3 linked regions of the Homo sapiens genome follow. The gene in region 1 interacts genetically with each later gene. Each region holds a gene or a part of one and is shown in the gene's direction. Other genes may lie near its edges. The genes, in order: MTA1, INTS9 and MCM2.

The links.
Region 2: changes in MTA1 (region 1) and INTS9 together harm fitness more than expected from each alone (negative genetic interaction), as found in Homo sapiens cells (one large-scale study listed by BioGRID).
Region 3: changes in MTA1 (region 1) and MCM2 together harm fitness more than expected from each alone (negative genetic interaction), as found in Homo sapiens cells (one large-scale study listed by BioGRID).

Annotation. Positions count from the first base shown.
Region 1 is NC_000014.9:105,422,706-105,426,354, forward strand, and holds part of MTA1 (metastasis-associated protein MTA1), read left to right. Parts: intron 1-3,649. UniProt on the Homo sapiens protein: Transcriptional coregulator which can act as both a transcriptional corepressor and coactivator. Acts as a component of the histone deacetylase NuRD complex which participates in the remodeling of chromatin.
Region 2 is NC_000008.11:28,813,460-28,817,108, reverse strand, and holds part of INTS9 (integrator complex subunit 9), read left to right. Parts: intron 1-3,496; coding exon 3,497-3,617; intron 3,618-3,649. UniProt on the Homo sapiens protein: Component of the integrator complex, a multiprotein complex that terminates RNA polymerase II (Pol II) transcription in the promoter-proximal region of genes.
Region 3 is NC_000003.12:127,615,282-127,618,930, forward strand, and holds part of MCM2 (DNA replication licensing factor MCM2), read left to right. Parts: intron 1-580; coding exon 581-674; intron 675-1,586; coding exon 1,587-1,837; intron 1,838-1,997; coding exon 1,998-2,124; intron 2,125-2,687; coding exon 2,688-2,800; intron 2,801-3,649. UniProt on the Homo sapiens protein: Acts as a component of the MCM2-7 complex (MCM complex) which is the replicative helicase essential for 'once per cell cycle' DNA replication initiation and elongation in eukaryotic cells.

The DNA of each region.
Region 1 (3,649 bases):
GGCAGGCTACTCCGAGGCCCTGCCAGGTTGGGCTAGGCAGGGTGAAGGTGTGGTGGCAGTATTTTTGTGCCAGCTGAGCTGGGTGAAGTGGTGAGCAGGGAGGGAACAGGGCCTGTTTCTTCCCCATGGAGTGCCCTGGCCACGGACAGAGGCCTTCTGTCTGTGCCTGTGAGGGCAGCGGATGGCCTGGGCAAGGGTGGCGGGGTCAGGGTTCCCTGACCTCTGCTTCTCAAGGGTTGTCCATCCCGAGGGCTGGGGAAGGCTTGAAACCTGCTGTGGGATGAGAGGGCCCCAGGGCAACGGCGGGATGTTTCTTCTCTGGGTTGAACATGAAGATGTTAGATAGCATCCAAAACAGGACAGCAGGAATCGGTGCCTGCCAGCCGCCTGCAGCTTGCTCATGTGGGGCTTCTGCTTTTCAGTGGACAGGCCATTACCATTTTGCCTTGGGTGTTTCTGTTTTTCATTGCAAGAGGTTAACACCCCATCTTTTGGATTTTTTTTGTTTAATTTTTTTTTTTTTTTTTTTTTTGAGATGGAGTCTTGCTCTGTGGCCCAAGCTGGAGTGCAGAGGCGCGATTTCGGCTCACTGCAACCTCCGCCTCCCCGGCCCAAGCGATTTCCTGCCTCAGCCTCCCAAGTAGCTGGGACTAGCCAGGCGCCACCAGGCCTGGTTAAGTTTTACATTTTTAGTAGAGACGGCGTTTCTCCATGTTGGTCAGGCTGGTCTGGAACTCCTGACCTCAAGTGATCCACCCGCTTCGGCCTCCGAAAGTGCTGGGATTACAGGCGTGAGCTCATGCCCGGCCTTTTTGTTTTAATTTTAATAAAAGTTGAGGCTGGGTGACAGAGTGAGACTCCGTATCAAAAAAAAAAAATTTTAATGTAGTTTGAAAGGATGCCAGAAAGCCCCTGCCCCTGCAGGGCCGCGGGCTCTGCCCCGGTCTCTGGCGCAGCCTGGGCGGAAGCACCCTGTCCGTGCTGCTGGTCTTCACTGGGCTTGGCATGTGCCATCATCTGCGCTCTGGCGCGCTGTTAGAAATGTTGCTTTTGTATTTTTATTCTAGTGTTTTTTTGAAGTTTAAACTTTATTGCTCTATATACTTGCCAGTGGGGAAAAAAGTAAACTTAAAAAAAATGTCAGATTTGTAGAGGGCTGCAGCCAGCGCCGCCCTACCCTGGAGTGCTGAGTGCACCGTGTCCCTAGGCACTTGCTGCTCCATGGGCCGACTTTTGGGGTCCCACCCATCTTTTCCAAGAAGGCAGGGAAGAGCCCTGGAGACACGGCCGTCCTGTGAGCACCAGGAGCGGGAGTGGTAGAAGTGGCAGGGGCCCAGGTGTGATGTCCTGGAGGGGATGGCATGGGGCTGTCCCACTTGGCCTGTGAGGATCGGCCTCAGCACTGCGCCATTGGCAGCCCTGGCTCACTCTCCAGGCAGGATGGGCCACTGAGCTTCTCCTGCCTCAGCCACTGAGCACTCCTGGCTTGCTCCACCTTTGTTTTTTTGAGACGGAGTCTCGCTCTGTCCCCCAGGCTGGAGTGCAGTAGCGCAATCTGGGCTCACTGCAAGTCCGCCTCCCGGGTTCACACCATTCTCCTGCCTCAGCCTCCCAAGTAGCTGGGACTACAGGCGCCCGCCACCATGCCTGGCTAATGTTTTGTAATTTTTTTTTTTTTGTAGAGACGGGGTTTCACTGTGTTAGCCAGTATGGTCTCGATCTCCTGACCTTGTGACCCACCCGCCTCAGCCTCTCAAAGTATTGGGATTACAGGCGTGAGCCACTGCGTCTGGCTTTTTTTTTTGTTTTTGAGACAGTCTCACTCTGTCACCCAGGCTGGAGTGCAGTGGCACAATCGCGGCTCACTGCAACCTCCGCCTCCTGGGTTCTAGTGATTTGCCTGCCTCAGCCCCCTGAGTAGCTGGGATTACAGGTGTGCACCACCACACCTGGCTAGTTTTTGTGTTTTTAGTAGAGACAGGGTTTCACCATCTAGGCCAGGCTGGTCTCGAACTCCTGACCTCAAGTGATCCACCCGCCTCGGCCTCCCAAAGTGCTGGGATTACAGGCGTGAGCCACGGTGCCTGGCCCCATATTGTTCTGAGTGGAGAATTTGATCGTTAAGCTCTCAGAATAATAAAAAAGTAGCTGTCAGTGAGAGATGTTGGAATATATGGTCCAATGAAGCACATCCCTCGCGCCCGACCCGCCCTGGCAGTGCCGTTCCCGCCCGTGTGTGTGGGTTCTGGGTGTCAAAACTGCTGCAGTGGCCCTGCAGGCATCCTACCTAGAGGTGGGTCCCCAGCTGCGCATCTGGACGCTGGTCAGCAGGTGAGGCTGGGATGCCAGAGGAGGTGCCGTGTGCCTGGCCAGGTACCCGGGAGGCGGCTTGGGGGAGCACTGGCTGCAGGGCCTCCTTCCTCCTCCTGCTGAACTTGGAGTGCTCTTGCCAGATTATGGGCTGAGTCCTGCTAGGGAGGGTGGCCCCCCTTCCCCAGGAGGAGCCCACCCTGAGACCTGGTTGGGGGGCAGCTTAGACCCTACCTTAGACTCCAGCAGGCTGTCTTGGGAGCATGTAATTATGTTTTTTTTGAGACAGGGTCTCCTGTTGCCCAGGCTGGAGTGCAGTGGCACCATCACAGCTACTGCAGCCTCCACCCCACAGGCTCAGGCGATCCTCCCATCTCAGCTTCCTGAGTAGCTGAGACCACAGGTGCACACCACCATACCCAGCTAATTTTAAGATTTTTTATAGAGGCGGAGTCTCACTATGTTGCCCAGGCTGGTCTCGAACTCCCGTCCTCAAGCGATCCTCTTGCCTTGGGCTCCCAAAGTGCCGCTGGGTTTGCAAGGCTGTGAACTACCATGCCCGGCAGAGCATTTAATATTCTCCAAATGTCTTTCCTCGTGTGCTACCTGGGCTCACTGCTTTCTGGGGCTCTCGTGTTGCTGGTGTCTCCACCCCCACCCCCACCCCAGCTGGCCTGCTCCATTCCTGTCCCGGTGGGCTCATGTCTGAGTGTGCGGACTGGGGGATCTTGGTGGCGATGGAGCCAAGCCCAGGGAGGCTGGGGCCACCCTCATAGTGCAAGGCCACCCAGCACCTCGCCCCTATACCCCACCCGCCCCACCAATGTGCCCCCGGCACCCCCGAGCCCAGGCCCCAAGGCTTGCTTCTATGGGCTTTGCACCACCCTCTAGGCTGCTCCCGCCTGGGCCATGCAGCGCACCTGAGGGGTCTGAGGTGACCGCTCCTCAGAGCCGCCCGGCAGCCTCCCTGGGGCGGGCCTCAGCACTGCAGCCCCGTGATCCGGCCTGGCGTGGGCTTTGCTGCTTTCTCTGCCCGGTGGCCTGAGGAGCTCGAGTGCCCGCCTGCCCCCAGAGCCCTTTCACGGTCAGGGCCTGAGCTCTGTGGGTGCCATTAGGAGGAGGGTCTGCAGATCTGTGCGGTTGGGGGACCCCTGGGGCATGGAGGGGACCACGCGTCCCTTCCCGTCCGTGCCCTGCCAGGCTGTCCTCACAGCAGCGTCGTCACAGGGGAGGAAACCAGGGCAGCGGCAGCGGCTCCTGGTACCAAGCATACCTTAAAAATGAGCCCATGGATGTTGCAGTGAGCCGAGATCACGCCACTGCACTCCAGCCTGGGTGA
Region 2 (3,649 bases), on another chromosome or scaffold:
AGGCAACCTACAAAATGGGAGAAAATTTTCGCAACCTACTCATCTGACAAAGGGCTAATATCCAGAATCTACAATGAACTCAAACAAGTTTACAAGAAAAAAACAAACAACCCCATCAAAAAGTGGGCAAAGGACATGAACAGACACTTCTCAAAAGAAGACATTTATGCAGCCAAAAAACACATGAAAAAATGCTCACCATCACTGGCCATCAGAGAAATGCAAATGAAAACCACAATGAGATACCACCTTACACCAGTTAGAATGGCAATCATTAAAAAGTCAGGAAACAACAGGTGCTGGAGAGGATGTGGAGAAATAGGAACACTTTTACACTGTTGGTGGGACTGTAAACTAGTTCAACCATTGTGGAAGTCAGTGTGGCGATTCCTCAGGGATCTAGAACTAGAAATACCATTTGACCCAGCCATCCCATTACTGGGTATATACCCAAAGGACTATAAGTCATGCTGCTATAAAGACACATGCACACGTATGTTTATTGCGGCACTATTCACAATAGCAAAGACTTGGAACCAACCCAAATGTCCAACAATGATAGACTGGATTAAGAAAATGTGGCACATATACACCATGGAATACTATGCAGCCATAAAAAATGATGAGTTCATGTCCTTTGTAGGGACATGGACGAAATTGGAAATCATCATTCACAGTAAACTATCGCAAGAACAAAAAAACCAAACACCGCATATTCTCACTCATAGGTGGGAATTGAACAATGAGAACATATGGACACAGGAAGGGGAACATCACACTCTGGGGACTGTTGTGGGTGGGGGGAGGGGGGAGGGACAGCTTTAGGGGACATACCTAATGCTAAATGACGAGTTAATGGGTGCAGCACACCAGCATGGCACATGTATACATATGTAACTAACCTGCACATTGTGCACATGTACCCTAAAACTTAAAGTATAATAATAATAAAATTTTTAAAAAAGGAAAAAAAAAAGAAAGTCAGTTTTGCTAGATATATAGTCCTTGGCATGCATTTTCTTTCTTTGAGTATCTTAAATATGTTCTCATATTTTTTTCTAATATTAAACATTGCTATTAAAAACACTGATAAAATCTAATTTTCTTTCCTTGTAAGTCACTTGTTCTTTTCCTAGATCCCAAAGGTTTGCTTGTAGTCTAAATATTTTCCAGAATATGTCTGTTGTTCATTGTTCTGGGTCAGTATTCTCAAGTGTACACTGTGTTCTTTTAGTGTGTAGTTTCGTGTCTCTTCATTTTAGCAATTATAGTATTTAGTAATTGAATATTATGAGTGTTAATTATTATTCTCACTTGGTTTTCTGTGATGCCACATAAGATTCCCTTATGTGGCATCTTGCTTATCTGTCTTCAACATTTGTTAGGTTCTTTTGAATTGTTTAAATCTCTTCATTTCTTTTTGGTATTTTTTATTAATCTACTCTTGTGTTTCTATTACAGGTTGAGTGTCCCTTATGTGAAATACTTGGGACCAAAGTGTTTCAGACTTCAGACTTTTTCCGATTTTGGAATATTGCTGATTGAGCATCCCAAATCCAAAATCCAAAGTAATCCAGTGAGCATTTCCTTTAAGCGTCATGTTTGCCTCAAAAAGCTGCAGATTTTAGACCATTTCTGACTTCAGGTTTTCAGATTTGGGATGGTCAACATGTAGTTTAGTCTTCATTTCCAAAATGATGTTTTCTTTTATTTCTAATTCTTTATTGAGTTTTGTCACCTCATTTATAAGCTTTGCTGGTTTTTCATGTATGTACCTCTTTCACGTTTGTATAACTTTTAAATCTTTTTAGCTTATTTGAAATTCTGGTGTATTGTTGGCATGCTTTCACTCTCTATATGACATTGTATTTCTAATTTGTAACAGCTCTTTTTATTCTCTTAATCTTTTATTTTGTAGCAATCTCTTCTCATTTCTTAGCTATACTATCTTATTTTTCTAACGATAGTAAGGACAAGCTGTTCTTAAAGTTTTCTTCTACCTGCCTAATTTATTTCTTCTAATTTCCCTGCCTGCTCCTCTGCCCCCACTTGAGGCCTTTATTATTTTAGAGACTTTTCTCAAATTTATGGTAGTCCTTGGCTATTGGCTCATGTTTAAGAGTTGAACGATTAAAAAAACTAATTAGAAAGTCTATGTGCCATGGGTAGGACTTGTTCACTTCCACACTTTACCATAAAGTAATCTGATTGAGCTGTTTCTTTGTGGAATCCTCTGCGTTAGAATCTTTTCATTAATTTTTTTTCTTTGAGGCTGATCGGATTCTTCAGAGAAGATTCTTTCAGCCCCCTACCCTGAGGGGAATAAGCTTACTCATAGTGCTTTGGCAGCCAAATGAGGAGAGGAACATTGTTCCTCTGTAAATTTTTGTTTAGGAAGGCTGTCTCAGTTGATGGTTTCCCGTAGTCCAGACTTTCATTTTTACTCCCTCCAGAGAACAACCTCTGGTAGCATACCTGAGAGGAGAAGGGACATCTGCTGAGCTATATGGAAGGAATGAGGAGATCTGGAAGGTTCTAAGTATCTCGTCTCTTTTTTCAACAGTTCCTCTTGTTTTTAGGTTGATTCAACTTCCTGATACACCTGTTGTTTTCAGTTGCCATATTTTTTGTGGGTTCTGCAGTAGAAATTAAACGTTTGCATTGAACTTTCCTGGGCCTATGAAGTCAGTTATCATTTGTCTGTCTACTTTCTAAAATGCCTTGCTATTGTCTCTTCTCTCATTCTCTTTGTCTTAAGGGTGTGTGTGTGAGAGTGTGTGTGTGTGTGTGTGTGTGTGTGTGTGTGTGTGTGTGTGTGTGTGTGAGAAGCCCTGTTCAGTGTTGTTTCAGGAGAGAGAGGAGAGGCTAATGGCATGCATTCATTTCACCCCAGTACTTGGACCTGTATTGTACAGTGAATGTCAGGGAAGTTACTCTTCAGGTCTCCTGATTCTTTTGGAGCAAATGATAAAACGTTTTTCTGTTGACACATTTTGGGCGACATAGCAAGACCATGTCTCTATTTTTTTTTTTTTTTTAAAAAAAGAAATGGCTGAGCACGGTGGCTCATGCCTGTAATCCCAGCACTTTGGGAGGCCGAGTTGGGCCTATCACAAGGTCAGGAGATTGAGACCATCATGGCCAACATGGTGAAACCCCATCTCTACTAAAAATACAAAAATTAGCCGGGCATGGTGGTGGGCGCCTGTAATCCCAGCTACTTAGGAGGCTGAGGCAGGAGATTCGCTTGAACCCGGGAGGTGGAGGTTGCAGTGAGCCGAGATGGCGCCATAGCACTCCAGCCTGGTGACACAGTGAGACTCTGTCTCAAAAAAAGTAAAAATAAAAACAGAGAAATGGTCATAAAGGAATCCTATGAACAATTATATGCCAGTAAATTAAACCATTTGGATCAAATGGACAAATTACTAGAAAGGAATGCTGTAGAACATGAAGAAATGTTCACCTGGTAGTTGACATTGTGATCCATTTGCAGGCTGTTACCTTCTCCTCTCAAGGATGCAGTGGAAGTCTCAACCTGGAGAAGATGCTATACAATGCAAGAGGTGAACTCTGCCCTTAGTAAAATCCAGCTGGTGGGATATTCTCAGAAAATTGTGAGTATTCATATTACATTTCAGTTATTCAT
Region 3 (3,649 bases), on another chromosome or scaffold:
TTCTATCTAAAATTCATGAAGATTTTGCTCTCTCCCTGTCTCTTTCTTTCTCTCACACACACACTGAAATAGAAATGTTCCAGTGACTCACTAGTTGGAATTACTTCCTGGTGGACACATCTCCCAGATGTGCCACATTTATTGCATTGACGAGGCAGGCACTTGCATGAACTGTCGCATTTGTACCCACCCTTCTGTGAGTTGGATGTTGCCATCTCTCTTTTCCATATGAAGAAACTGAGGCTTGAGGTAGGCCAGTGCCATGACAGACCTGGTTCTGGTCTTATTTCTGCTCTTGGTCTGTGATCTTGGGAAAGGCCTTTCTGAAATATGTCAAGATTAGGGGTTCAGATGAAGGTTCTTCTAAACTCCAAAGTTCTGTGACTCTTGGGAAGAGCCAACTAATGAAAAGCTTTAGAGTCGGGCACGGCTTGATACCAGGGCCTGATGCAGTTGCAGCAGCTGTGGAAGTGGGTGTCTTTGAGCTGGGGATGTCGTGGTTCCCTGATGCCAGAGCATGTGGGTGACCTACTCTGTGAGTATCTGTTCCCATTCTTGTCGGTCTCCCTCCCTTTCTCAGATCTTTGCCAGCATTGCTCCTTCCATCTATGGTCATGAAGACATCAAGAGAGGCCTGGCTCTGGCCCTGTTCGGAGGGGAGCCCAAAAACCCAGGTGAGCACCCACCTTTCCTCTGCAGGGGTGTTAGCAGCTTTCTCTTTGGGGAGCCAGCATTCAAAGAAGGACACAGTGTTTTTAAAGCCTGGGTGCTGGGGAGAAAGAATGCATTAAAAGATGGTCTGGCTGGGCGTGACTCATTCTTCAAGGGAGAGGGTGGCCCTGAGTTGGGCATTCTGGGTGTTGGGCTGTTGGTCAGGGAGCCAGTGTCTGCCTGCTTTTGTGATTTAAGCAAATGAGTCTTTGCTTCTCTTCTATGTAAAAAATACTTTGTCTTTTAAAAACCTGTTTTAAGTACAAAAATACTATTGACACATGAGTTTGTATTTATATTACACTTTTATAGAACACTAAAAGTCATGGGTGAGGCTGATTTCCCCATTGACCCCCACTTCTCTTCCTAGTCCCTCCCTTTGTGGCCATTTACAATTACACAGCAACCACAGGGTTTCATGACTACACGTGTTTATTTGTACAAGCGCAGCGTCCCCTGTGTGTGCCCAGTGCTGTGCCTGTGCGCAGTGCATCCCACCGAGCTCTCCCGCTCAGTGCCACACTGCAGCATCTTTTCTTGTTAGTGCATACAGAGCAATTGCCTTCTTTTAAATGACTATCATGCCACCAGATAACGCAGTTTATTTAGCTCTCCCTTTGGAGAACACTTAGATTGTTTCTGATATTTCACATTCGCCAAGGACATCTCGTGCAACCCTCCTCTGCACCCGTGTGTGTTTCCCTGGGAGTGCCCAGAGTGGGACTGCATGGCGTAGGGCATTGTATCCCTTTCTAGAGGGACTGTGCCTTACCATTCCTAACAAGTAGGTTGAGGAATTGGTGGGGGATGCAACTGTGCCCTCCTCCTCTCACTTCCCACTCTCCCCCTCCCCCGCTTCTACTCATCCCCTCCAGGTGGCAAGCACAAGGTACGTGGTGATATCAACGTGCTCTTGTGCGGAGACCCTGGCACAGCGAAGTCGCAGTTTCTCAAGTATATTGAGAAAGTGTCCAGCCGAGCCATCTTCACCACTGGCCAGGGGGCGTCGGCTGTGGGCCTCACGGCGTATGTCCAGCGGCACCCTGTCAGCAGGGAGTGGACCTTGGAGGCTGGGGCCCTGGTTCTGGCTGACCGAGGAGTGTGTCTCATTGATGAATTTGACAAGGTGGGTCCCTGGGTCACGGAGGCTGGTGGAACTCAGGGGGTGTGTGTGGGCTTGGGCCTTAGCGACGGGAATGGTGTTAATGGGGTCCATTGGGACCTCATCGGAGACTTAGTAGTAGGGGCGTGAACCATGCTAAGGGTGGGCCATTTTAATCTTGCAGATGAATGACCAGGACAGAACCAGCATCCATGAGGCCATGGAGCAACAGAGCATCTCCATCTCGAAGGCTGGCATCGTCACCTCCCTGCAGGCTCGCTGCACGGTCATTGCTGCCGCCAACCCCATAGGTGCAGCAGGCACCCTGACTGCTGGGGCTGGGGTGGGACACAGGGAGGTCCCGCCTGCTTGAATTGGGAGCCCACGGGGTCCCCAGGAGCCGATCTGAGGAAGTCATTGTGCAGCAGAGGGTTCCCCTCTTCTGCATATCCTGCCAGAGTGGGGAACAGTGAAAGTGGGACCTGGGACACCTGGGTTTCCTGTTGAGTCATGTTCCTGGAATCACCTTGGATGTTCTCAGAAGGCATGGGAGGAGAGCCCAGTGCCCCTCTGGCCAGGATGGAGTTGGCTGTTGGTCTCAGCAGCGAATGCGTAAAAGAACCCAGGCTCTGTCACCCACTGTGTTCTTGGTTTTTCCTCCTGGGGAAGCAGTTATGCTTTCTGTCTAAATTAGGCTATTTTGGGCCCTGGTTAGGGTAAGCTCTTTGCTGTCTCAGACAGCAGGTGCTAAGTACCCACCTATGTCTTCCTCTTCCACTGCCCTCATCCCCTTCTGCCATCAGAGCAGCCTGGGGTCCCTGAGATGGGAGGATAGGGGAATCCACCCTGATGGAGGTGCTCCCCTGTGTTTCAGGAGGGCGCTACGACCCCTCGCTGACTTTCTCTGAGAACGTGGACCTCACAGAGCCCATCATCTCACGCTTTGACATCCTGTGTGTGGTGAGGGACACCGTGGACCCAGTCCAGGTATAGCTCACATGTGCCCGGTTTCCATGAACTGTGGTTTGGGGACCTCAGGTGAGGCTTGGGGTCATACAGTGTGCCCAACACAGGGGACAGGTGCTGCAGGGGCCATAGGCTGTTTTCTAGTCCTGTTCCCTCGGTCTCTTCTCATGTCCAGAAGTCGCCCTGATTTCTCTTTCCTTCACAGCACCCCCGACCCCCACCCTACATAACCCACAATCCACCAAATCCTGTTGTCCCAACTCCTGAGCCTACCCACCTCCCTCACTTCTGCCTCTGACTTGAGGCACTACCATCATCTGAACTGGCCTCCTGGCACCCATGTAGACTGTCTTCCAGTTGAAGGCATAAATCAGATCAGCCCCGTCCTTAACAACTGCTTGAGGCTTTCTGCTGTCATCAGAATAGAATCCAGGGTCCTCCCCTCCGGCCCGCACCCGCCATCTCTGCAGCTACCTCCTCCTCGCTCCCTTCCCTCACCTGCACCTGCACCTGCCCTTCTCTCTCAAAAGGGCCGAGCCTTGGGGCTTGATTGTGCTCCTTGCTCCTGGCAGACGCTCTCCCACACTGTCACATGACTTGCATCTCATTGTCGTCATCTCAGCTCCCTGTCTTTCAGGGAGGGGCTTTGCCGGGCACCCTTAGCTAGAGGCATCTCCTTGGTCCCTTGATCCTATCACTCTATTTTTCTTCTGAGCATTACTTTCCATAATTAATTTTTAAGACTATTTGTCTCCTGTCCCCTTGTGGAGATGAGCCCTGTGGGGACTCTGTCCCATTGTCTGGTTTGCCACCCACACCCAGAACTGCCTGGCACATGGTCAGTGTAGTCAGTCTTGTTGAAAGAGTGTC